Linked DNA regions of Homo sapiens: region 2 is linked to region 1. Evidence: fine-mapped QTL for protein levels in blood plasma. A gene starts in region 1. The other region holds a variant in brackets. All regions are shown on one strand. Distances are between the middles of the regions. Region 1 holds the start of IGFBP3 (insulin like growth factor binding protein 3). Region 2 overlaps LOC102723446 (a long non-coding RNA gene).

What was found. PIP is the chance, under the fine-mapping model, that this variant and not a neighbour inherited with it causes the effect. Protein levels are from antibody-based Olink assays in UK Biobank. Linkage for the fine-mapping came from a reference panel and not from the study's own genotypes, which makes the PIPs less certain.
Region 2: its variant is fine-mapped to the plasma level of the IGFBP3 protein (UK Biobank, PIP above 0.99).

The regions. Positions count from the first base shown.
Region 1 is chr7:45,918,674-45,924,005 of GRCh38, forward strand. IGFBP3 (insulin like growth factor binding protein 3) reads right to left here and starts at 2,599. Exons shown (of 5, transcript NM_000598.5): 1 at 2,065-2,599. The coding sequence starts at 2,467. RefSeq lists enhancers at 2,402-2,982, 2,983-3,563.
Region 2 is chr7:45,965,251-45,970,622 of GRCh38, forward strand. The region is part of intron 1 of LOC102723446 (a long non-coding RNA gene); the gene reads left to right. Among named protein-coding and RNA genes, the nearest start is that of IGFBP3, 47 kb to the left of the region's middle. The variant G/A (reference allele first, on the strand shown) is at 3,261.

The sequences.
Region 1 (5,332 bases):
GTCTATTCTAGAAAGCTACCTGGGGCTGCAATGATTTGGCTGCAGATGCTCTGCTCTCCCCTGGAAGTGGCTACTGGCAGGTCACTCACCAGGGCCTTAGGAAAGTCCCTCTCCTCTCTGGGTCTTAGTTTCCTCACCTGCCAAACAGCTCACTGAGGTCCTGCTGTAAAGTTCCCCAAGGGGTTTCATACCTTGGGAAGCACACATTCCCAGGGTCCAGCACAGAGCCTCACAGAGGAGGTCCCTACCTGCGAGGATTTGGTTTCAATTTCTTTTAATCTTAGCTTGCTTTCTTTTTCAAGGAAATACTGAGATAAAAGAGATACTAAGAATGTAAATACTCTAAGAACATGTAAATAAACGTATTTATACTTCTTTTCTAAGAACCTTGAGTAATTTCTTAAATTTCCTTGGTTTCTTCTTAATGCCTGGGCTGCAGACTAGGGCATGAAGACAAAACAGTTCTATTTAAGCAACAGATAATTGTGACTTTTGACTGTCGAAAATTTACCTTTTTTTGTCAAATAGATTCTAGAAGTCACTTAGATCTTTTTATAATCTTATAACTCACATCAACCTATACTACAGTGCTACTAAGGTGGTAATCATGATGATTGCTAAAGCCCAAGAATGACGATGTGTATCAGTATTTCTAAGATCACTTTTTGAATACCCCAAAATGCACAATAATGTACGACACTTGGCAAATGACATAACTTTGCCCCGAGAGACAAATGCCTCCAGCAGCTTTAACAGCTGACCAGAGCCAGTGTATGTTTCAGGCATCTTGCCTTTCCATGAATCCAGCATTTCTCAGGGGTGAACAGAGCCAGCCTTGCCGAGCCAGAAAATAACTTCACCCGGGCGTGGAACTCTACAGCTACATAAATTATAAAGGGACTGTTCATCCTGCTAGCCCTAGATGGGGGCCTGCCCAGTGACATCTGTCCAACGTGATCGTTGGGGAGTTGGGGGAATTAGGATGGGGAGAATTCTCCCAGCCTTCAGCTGTGCAAGGCAGGAACTTTATTTCTCATATAACTAGGTGAGGCTGGCTAAGAATGCTTGAAAGAACAGCTGCCAAATCCATTTAAACAACCCCCGCTCCTTTTTTTAAGGGAACAATGTGATGCCCTTACCAGAGTCGCTGTCTGCCTGATACTGATAGTGGCTAAGCCAAGAGGGTAACTCTGCCAAATGTTTGCATTTTTCCTCTTCTGGGGCTCCCCTTAACAACATCTCATTCCCCCCCCCATTTCAGATTAAGAAGGGAGACAGCCCTAGGACTGATTCCAATTCCCTTCCGTGTCATTGAAATTGACTTAGTCCACATTGCCCGCACCCACCACGCACCTGGAAGTTTGTTTGAGGTCGGCGCAGGTGCAGGGGTGGCCCGAGTTGTAAGAATGGTATGGTACTGAAAGTGGCACGCGGAGTTCAAACCTACACTCTGTTGTGGCCGCTGGGTAACCTTAAGAAGTTACTTCTTTTTCAGCTTCAGGTTTTCCAACCGCAGAAGATATCAAAACCCGAATCCACTTTACTTGTTTTTGGACATACCGGGACTAGACATTGCTTTGCAAACCAAAAGGCTGTGCAAAGTCAGTATTTTAAAAGAGAGGTACTATTTCCTACAACGTGCCTGCCCACCTTCCTTGGTCCAAATCCGCCTATATCCCCCCCATCCCCAAGCATCCCTGGGATTGCAGTCCGTGTGCACCCCCGTGCGGGGCGAGGAGAATCTCCTGTGTCCAGGATCTTTCCAACAGCTAAACATCGGTACCGCTCCCCTCAGCTCCGGAAACCTTTAACCCATTTTCACTGAAAGCGCTTTGCAATTTACAAGTACTCTGCACTTAGAGAATCGAGCAAGTAGAGGGCCGGCTGGGGAGGGTCCCTCCGGCGACCGCCTTCACCTTTCCCGGAGCGCCTTCAGTTTCCCCACATATTATCTCCAGTGAGAAGAAAAGCGGAGTCTCCCGCAGCGGCACCCAGCAACCCCCAGGCCCTTCGGCGCCAGTGCGCCGGGTGCTGCACGCAGCGCACCTGGCGCGGGCGGCTCACCTGGAGCTGGCGGCGCTGGCAGCAGGTAGGCGCGCAGGCGGCTGACGGCACTAGCGTTGACGCAGAGCCCGCGGCCGTCCAGCAGCGCCTGCAGCGGTCGCGCCTCGTCGGGCGACGGCTGGCAGCGAAGGCCGGAGCCACAGCGCTCGGTGTAGATGCCGCACGGCTGGCCCTCGCTCAGTGCGCACGTCAGGCAGCAGCCGCAGCCCGGCTCGCGCACCAGCTCCGCGCACACGGCGGGCGGAGGCGCGCACTGGGCCAGTGCACGCGCGTCGCACGGCTCGCAGCGCACCACGGGACCCAAGCCCGCCGAGCTCGCGCCAGCCCGCGCCACCGGCGGCCCGCGGAGCAGCACCAGCAGAGTCAGCGCAGCGGCCCAGAGCGTGGGTCGCGCCCGCTGCATGACGCCTGCAACCGGGGCACGCTGCTTGGCAGGCTGGGCGCGCAGGGATGGGGCGACAGTACACGGCGCGAAGCTGTGGAATCCAGGCAGGAAGCGGCTGATCCTCAGCGCCCAGCCGCAGTGCTCGCATCTGGGCGGCCCGGGCGCGCCGGCCGCTATATAGAAGCCGGGGTGGCCCAGGACACGCCCCGGAACGGCGCGCCCAGGAGTGGGGGTTGGGAGGGGGGCGGGTCGGCGCAGGCACGGCTGCGGGGGCCCGTGCTTCGCCCTGAGCAGCCGGGGCCGAGCTCGGGGGCGTGCAGCTCGAGACTCGCCCGGGCACCTGCTCCTCGTGCGCACGCCCGGAGCCCGGGTCACCTTGTCGTCTACAAGAACCAAGGTGTGCCCGGCCACCCCGGCACTCCAGGCCACCTCAGCACCCCCGGTCACCCCAGTCACTCCTGGCCAACTCAGCACCCCCGATCTCCTTGACCCCGCCGCCCTTACCCCTTCCGCTCTCGGGGTGAGGTCTCCCTGCGGCGAGCCGGTGTCGGGGAAACTGGCATACAGCGCTCCGCATTCGTGTGTACCTCGTGGAGCTTTCTAAAATTTAATTCCGTTGGCAGGCGAAGTCTTGGGACATTTCTGACTTACATTTGGGTCTCAGGGAGCCAAGGCACTGCGGGGTTTAATTTACACCCGCTGGGCTGTTTATATCCCCAGGGGCCCACAAATACGCATCTGAAGATGCGCCCGGGGCCTTCGCCCCTTTCCAGGCTTACTTCTCAACGCAAGAAGACTCTCACGTGTTGCTACACCGCAAGTCTCCAATTAAGAGTGGACCGGCAAGCGAATGCGTCCTTAAGGCAGGGCTTTTCAAATATTTTAAATGACAACTGTTCTTCTTGTCTTGGGTATTCTCCCTGATTATGTTTTCAAATGGAGTTTACACCCATGACAAAAGAATAATAAAGACAATAAACTGGGCACTGCTGAAACGTAATTAACCAAATAGTCCTTTAATAGGCAATTTTCATTGTCATTTTTTGAAGGCGACTTCGTATTACTGTATTCTCGATGCGTTGGGATTCTAGCTTATCTCTGCAATCTAAACACTTTTCAGTAAAGTTCGGGGGCGCAATTGCGCGCTGAGGTCGCTGTAACTCCTGTCGGCCTTCTCTGGCACTCGAGTTTCTTCAGTTTTGTCTGCGCACCCCCTCCCTTCGGTGACCAACAGAGGACGCTGGTGGTCCAGGATTGGATTGAGGATTAAATTTTTCAAGGCACTTTTCCAAAGAGTTTGTGGGGGTGGAGTGGGAAGCGGTGAGACCTCCGCGGGAGGAGACTTTCCTGAACGCTGTTGAAATTGGACGCTTGCCTTAGGAGGTGGATAGGTGACTTGAAGGAGCCCTTTGCAGTTTGGAGTAGTAATAGCAAATCAGGAGCTCCTCCATTCCCCTCCAGCACGAAGCCTTGGGTGAAGTTAATCTTCATTCATCATTTCTGTCTCTCCTAATCGATCTCTCGCCCAGTGTCTCTCCTTGTCCCTCTCCCTCCCTTTCTCTCTCTCGTCCTCTCCCCTTTTCCCCCTGTCCACCTCTTCCCCCATATCTATACAGCTTCCTTTTATACATATATACTCTCCTTTTAGAATGGAAAGATCAATTTCGTTCCCTCTTGTACTAAATAAATAAATAATTGGACCTCTACAAATAAAAAGAGACCAAAGACAAGAACAATGGAGTGCCCCGGGGTGACGAAGGCCCAGCACCGTCATTTTCTTATGAGCTCTTCTCCCACAGTGCTCAGGCTGTGGCTACACTCAACCTTGTTTACAGGAAACCGTGCCATAATCGTCGCTTGCTGTTTCCTTTCTCTTGTATCACCTCCTTCTAGTATCTGCGTTGACACCCAAGAACAGGATCTCTGATTTCATTGGAAAATTGAAGGAAACAAAACGAATCCCCCAGGTTTACATCCGTTCCTTAAATACTCGCAGAGACCTTGACTCTGAAATTAGAGCTGGGTTCGGCATCAAATGCAATTCTTGAGGTCCCAGGTCTGCAGTTCTGGTTAGTGCAATGTTGCAGCAGAGCCTGGACTGACCACTGGTTAGTGTAGCACTTTTTATTCAGCTTTATCATCTGGAGAGTGGACAGGGGAAGATCAGAAACAATGTCTTTTTGGAAAGGATTAAAAAATTTGTTTTATTCTTGGTTCTCTTCTTTTTTCCCTCGCATTGCAGTTGGAGAAACTTGTTCAGTGCCGAATGGCTAGGGGGCGCCAAAGCTCCAGGCGTCCAGCCCGGCCTCAGGGACCACGGGACACACGTAAAGACTAAGTCACATTTCAACTTTCAAAGGCTATTCCAATAACAATGTTTTATATAGATTGCCATCACCTTTATCATGACATCTTGCAACAGCAGAGTAAATTTGAGGCAGTGACACGGGGAGAATTGTGTTTTGTTATTTAGCCAGTTTTATTTGATAACTGCAAGCTCCCTGCCCCTCCCGGAACATAATTGTTGCAGGAAGGATTTGGACTGGATAAAACTTAATTTTGTGACATGCTCGTTAATTCTGTTAAACTTCCAATTCATCTGGTGTTTGTAGTTTTTAACATAAACTAGTATTTAGTGAGAAAGATGTTTACCCCCTGTGAAGGTGCTTGGCATACAATTGCTAATCATTGCAAAAGTAGCGAATAACCATCCGAATAGAGGTCAGGAGGCTGCATAGATCTCTTTTCACTAACGGAGTCCAGCTGACCTGATTATAATTAGTGTTTCCTTTGGTCAGCCTCGTTATTTTCACCAGGTGACCTAAACCACTCATTTCTTTGAGCCCACTCCTGCTGCTAAAGGGCACCTTGTCGCTGCGTGAT
Region 2 (5,372 bases), 47 kb after region 1:
CCTGGGTTTTGGTCTCCATGAGAGGCCCTGTGTGGGCAGACCCCTAGCTAGCAGATGGGACCCCATCTGGGGTGACAGCTTGCAAAGACGGCACCCTGACTCTGGGTCTGCACAGTGTCTGTGTGGTCTGCAGATCTAAGTCCTTCTCCATTTGCAAGGACACAAAGCGCACAGGAGAGTGAAGACACACTCTGTATATGTTTGCTTTAATGCTTAAAGGCCTGGTTTGGGGCTCGGTGCAGTGGCTTATGCCTCTAATACTAGTATTTTGAGAGGCTGAAGTGTGAGGATCACTTGAGGCCAGGAGTTCAAGACCAGCCTGGGCAACATAGTGAGACTGTGTCTCTCCATGCAAAACAAAACACAAAATCTAAACCAAAAAACTTAGCTGGGTGTGGTGGCATGTGCCTGTAGTTCCAGCTCCTCCGGGAGGCTAACTGGGGAGGATCCCTTGAGTCCAGGAGTTCAAAGCTACAGTGAGCTGTGATCACACCACTGCACTGCACTCGAACTGCGTGACAGAGAAAGACCCTGACTCAAACAAAAAAAAGGAAAAAAAAATCTAGTTCGACTTCCTTTGAGAGTCTTTTCCCTGGAGCTATGGAGCTGGCAAAGCCTTCAGGAGTCCTGAGATATTTTCTCCCTGAGAGTCCTAGGACACCCTTTATCATTGGAGCCTGCAGAGCCCATAAGGAATGTTTAATTACAGCTTCGGTCCTTAGAAAAGAAGGTCCATCTCCTGGGTCTGTCCCTGCGGTTCGAACCCACCATGCAGGTCTGGGCGCGCATGACCACATGTTTCTACAAGTGCATACTCATATCCAACTTCCCAGTTTAAACAAACAAACAAAAAATACATCAAGGAAAAGTTATTTTATACTTAGCAATCCACACTATCAAAATTTTTCAGTCAGAAAAGTCCTTAGTATGTGAATCAATTCCATCATTTTATAAAACCGATGTTACACACCTTGTCTTGTCTCATAGAACTGAGCCTTTTTATCAACCTCTTGCTGTTAGAACCTGGCCTGTTTCCTCTGCCTGCCTGGCATAGTTAGAGACAGGACACATTTTGGTTCTTTGTCCCCTTTGTAAGATCCCCATGAGGTCTTGAGTGTGAATCTCAGAAAACAGTTTTGCTCAAAAACCAAACACCCCCTAAGATCCCAGGAAGTGGCGGTGACTTTGCACTGTTTTCAGCAGTGCCTGTTCCAAGGAAGGTTGTTAGCATTGGGTTAAAACCATCAGAAAATCCATCATGAGGGCGTTTTCAGCTTTACCAGAAGCAGGAAGTTACAGAAATCTCTGAAGTAGAGTCCGTCCTGGTGCAGCCCGGCTGACTCAATGGGTTTACATGTTTTGGTTGTGGTTTGAGGATATAAAACCTCTGGATGGGATGTCAGGTGAACCTGCAGTTTGCTGATGGCTAGTAGGGTTTGAGTATTTCTCTGTATGTTGCTAGCTGTCTGTGTGCGATGCTCCTTTCCAATTTTGTTCTTCCAGATCCCCTCCTCTCCTTCAAGAATGTGTGGACTTGTGCTGCTATCTCCTCAGCCCTTCGCAGATCTGGGGGTCTCCTTTATATTTTGCGATGTTTCAGAGTTTCTGGGGCTTTCTGGGTTGGCCTCCCTTTGCCTGAATGCAGGCCATTGTCTTGTACGCTGACTTGCCCCAACTATTGTATGGCTGTTCCCGAAAAGTAGACTCCACAGCTCACTTTGTTAATGCTACCAATATGTACTCTATAAAATCTTGGGGGAAACAGCTGAATACGGAGGATGACATTACCTCCCTAGAACCGGCTGCTGGTAGAACCACACATCTGGATCTGGCCCTAAACTTTCCCAAAAGGAATCTCTGCACTTTGGGATCCAGGCCTAATGTGCTGCCCCCTCTGTCCTGCAAGGAGAGCCTCATTCCAAGTTGCAGCATGGTCAACCATGAGGACCTCTGTTTTCTCAGGGATGATCTTTTCCTGACCCAGGGGAATTGGGACCTCAAAGAGCTAGGGCAAGGTCATATAAAATGTAAGTTTACTTATATTTTTATATATAAGATGGAAGACTCCGTCAGGCTTCCCTCCCACTGTGGGTGCTCTCTCAAGCCCTTCCTGCTGCCTCTCCATAGCTGGTCTGGCCCAGTCTCCCCAAAGACTTTGCCTCAAATTCTCAGTGAGAACAGACTTGAACCAAGAGAATAGATTAATAAATTCATAGGTCATAAATAGGTCATACATTCATAAACTGGGAAAAGGAGTAAGTTCTTAACCTTCCAGGGCTGTGGTCTTCCTATTCCAACCACAACACAGAAGTGCTGTATCCTCCCAAAGGTGGATTAGAAGGGATCCCCTGGCTCAGAATCATGCATAGAACGCTGCAAAAGTTTACTCCAGGGCAATCCCAGCCTCCCTGAGACTCACTCACAGCCTTTCCCCTTCAGAATGGACCCACTGAGCCCTTAGCTCTGACTTGAACCTGAACAAGGTGACCTTGGGCAGGTGGTCTTCCCCAGCCTGAGTCTGACCCTCAAATGTGGAAGTTGGAGGTGGCCAGGTCTGCCCCTTGCTGCTGTCCTGTGCTCTCCGTCGCTGCTGGAGAGGGGATTTGCTGGGGCACGCTTGCTTTTCTGACCCAGGCAAGCTTCTTTTTGGTGCCTTTCTCTAACAGATAAAAAAATGGTATGAGAGAAGAATTGAGCACCTGTGAGATGCCTGCCCATTCCCAAGGGTTGGGGAGCTCAGCCTGACTCCCACTCCCTGGGCGGGCCTGGTTGCCTCACCCCCAAGGTCCTCACAGTCCAGGCCACAGAGAGTGAGGGCTGTGGCTGTTCTTTTTCCTGTGTCATCTCAGCAAAGGGGGATCCTGCCAGTTAATGCAGGAAACAGACTGGAAAAGATGGCAAACCCAAAGGTAAGGGTGTCCTGCCGGAGCTCCCCAGGGCTCAGGAGACTTCCCACCCTTCTCCTGAGGGTGGGCCTGGCTTTCCTGCCTCTCCCACCCCTGGTGCCTGCTGCTCACCTGACAAGAACCCATTTGGTCAGTGCCCACATCCTCTAAGGCACACAATCCTGGGCCTCCAGGTAGGGCCTTCTCCTTGGATTGACAGGCGGGGCCTAGGGGAAGGAGCTTATATTCTCCCTCTCTCTCTGTCTCTTCTGATCCTTTTTTGTTTTTCAGAGAAACTATTCCAACAACACAGGAATAGACAGACTCAGATGTGCTGGTTCTCGCTCACCTGCCCTCCCAGCCCTCTCTCCCCGC[G/A]GAGGTGAACAGAGCCATTGCCTGGTGAGCCCCTGCAGGCTCCATAAGTGCTGCTTCCATGCCCTTCCTTTAAATGGGCCAAGGGCGGGCTCTATTGATGTAGCAACTTGCTTTCCACAACGTGTCCCGGCTCTTTCTATGTGGGTGGACACACATCTCTTTCATCTTTCAAACTTTCCCCCTTTGCCCCTTTGCCCAGGTATGGTAAGTGTCCAATGGCTACAGAAACTTGATGAATAGACTGTATTAAGCGTCTGATTAGCTATAAATCCTTGTGCCTGGTGTTGGAGATCTGGGGTAGTATCTGTTGCATGCTGACCTTCCCAAGTCAGGATTTCTCTCCCTTCTGATTTGCCTTTTTCTGATTAACGTCCAAACGTGAGGAATATTCAGTTCTCTTTAGATGAAGAATCTCCTCAACTAAGAGTCATCTAGATGGAAGATTTTGAAAATTTAGTTGCAAAGAGATGAGGCTGTGTCCTGTTTTGTATTCTGCTTTCTCTCTTGTGGGAATGTCCCCACCCTTCACGGAGCTGCGCTCCTTCCTCGAGGCCGGCAGGGCGGATGCCAAGTGTTCTGGAGAAACTGAATTAAGGACACATTGTTTTCTACCCCTCTGTGCACTCATTTTGTTTCATATCAGATGATATCATTTTGTTTGGATATATATCAGATTATACCATTAAATCTGAGGGGACCATAAATATCGCAAAGTGAATCCCTGGCTAACATTCTGACCTTGCTTACCTGCCTGGATTCTACACTTAACAGAAAGTAATTTATTCCAGGGGTGACAGGGAATTTCCATGGTGCGAGTGGAGAAGAATTCTGAAGGCTTGCCCATGCTGGCAGGAAGGAGTGTCTTAATGATTAATTATGTCCTCTAGTCACTCTAAGGCCAGTGACAAAGGGTGGGCAAGTATTTGCCATCTTCTGGAGTGAGCAACTGTTGCTACCCTCTTGGGCCCATCCAAAAAGAAACATCCAAGCTCCCGAGGGACAGAGAGATGCACATCACAAAAGCCAGTGGGTGTGCGCTTTATCGCTTAGTGCTTAACCTGGTCATCTACCTGCCAATCAGCTGAAACATACCAATCTACGTGGGAAGCTTCCATTCGTATAGTCCTGCCGCTTCCTGTGGCCGCTGCATATTCAATGCTCCTTGCTGCTTATTTCTGGAATTGAGGTGGCCTCGTGCTTTTATAGGACAGCAATTGACACATTTGCCCTGGCAGCTGAGACAGCCCATGAGGAAAGACGCTTTGGGGTCCACCTGTCCTATTTAGAAACAGTTACACAGTGAGTTAATTTCCAGATGCTGGGTTCATTTTCAGAAAGTCTTTTGGAAGCAGGGAAAAGAGTGGTTTGGAACCCTTGTTCTTTTGGAGTTTTTTGGGGGAATGGAAAATAACCTCTGGGCAGTTCTCTTTGTGTCAGAAGCCTTGTATCAATCACCAAATAGTTATCCAACATTTACCCAGTCTGGAGTGTATGGGGCTCCGGGCCAGAGCCCAGGCACAGAGCCCTAGTTGGGAGGAGCCCACGTTCAGCAGGGCACATGGCAAAAGGTGGTACTCGTTCAGGTCAGGGCTGGGAGATCAGCAGTATAGAGAGACTGGTGTGGCTGCCCAGGCAGGGGGTGGTTGTGCCTGCCTGGGGCATTGGGAAGGCTGCCGAGACCCAGTGACACTTGGGCCTGGCCTTGAAGGTAACTAGGAGTTTGCAAGCTAGAGAGTGAGGGAGAGGAGAGGTTGGGAAGGATGCGCAGAGGCTGTGTTTTGGACTTGGGGAGAATTGGTTGGGTTGAGGGAATGTCCAGAGAGAGATTTGGCAAGGACACTCGGAGACTGGTGTGTGGGTGGCCTCCTGGGCTGCCTTAGACCCTCATCTTCATGCCCTGCTGCTATGAATTTTTTATTATTGTATTTTGTTTCATTTTGACAGGATATTTTGATAGACTTCTAAAAATGGACAGGACTGTTTTTCTAGCCTTTTGTGATAAAAGTGCCCTTTGTGCTAAAAATTCTAGCCCATGGTGTGTTGCATCTGTAGGTCTCTAGCTTGGCCAGGCCTGCTTCTGTTTGGGGTTTCTAGAGCTGATATTCCTCTGCT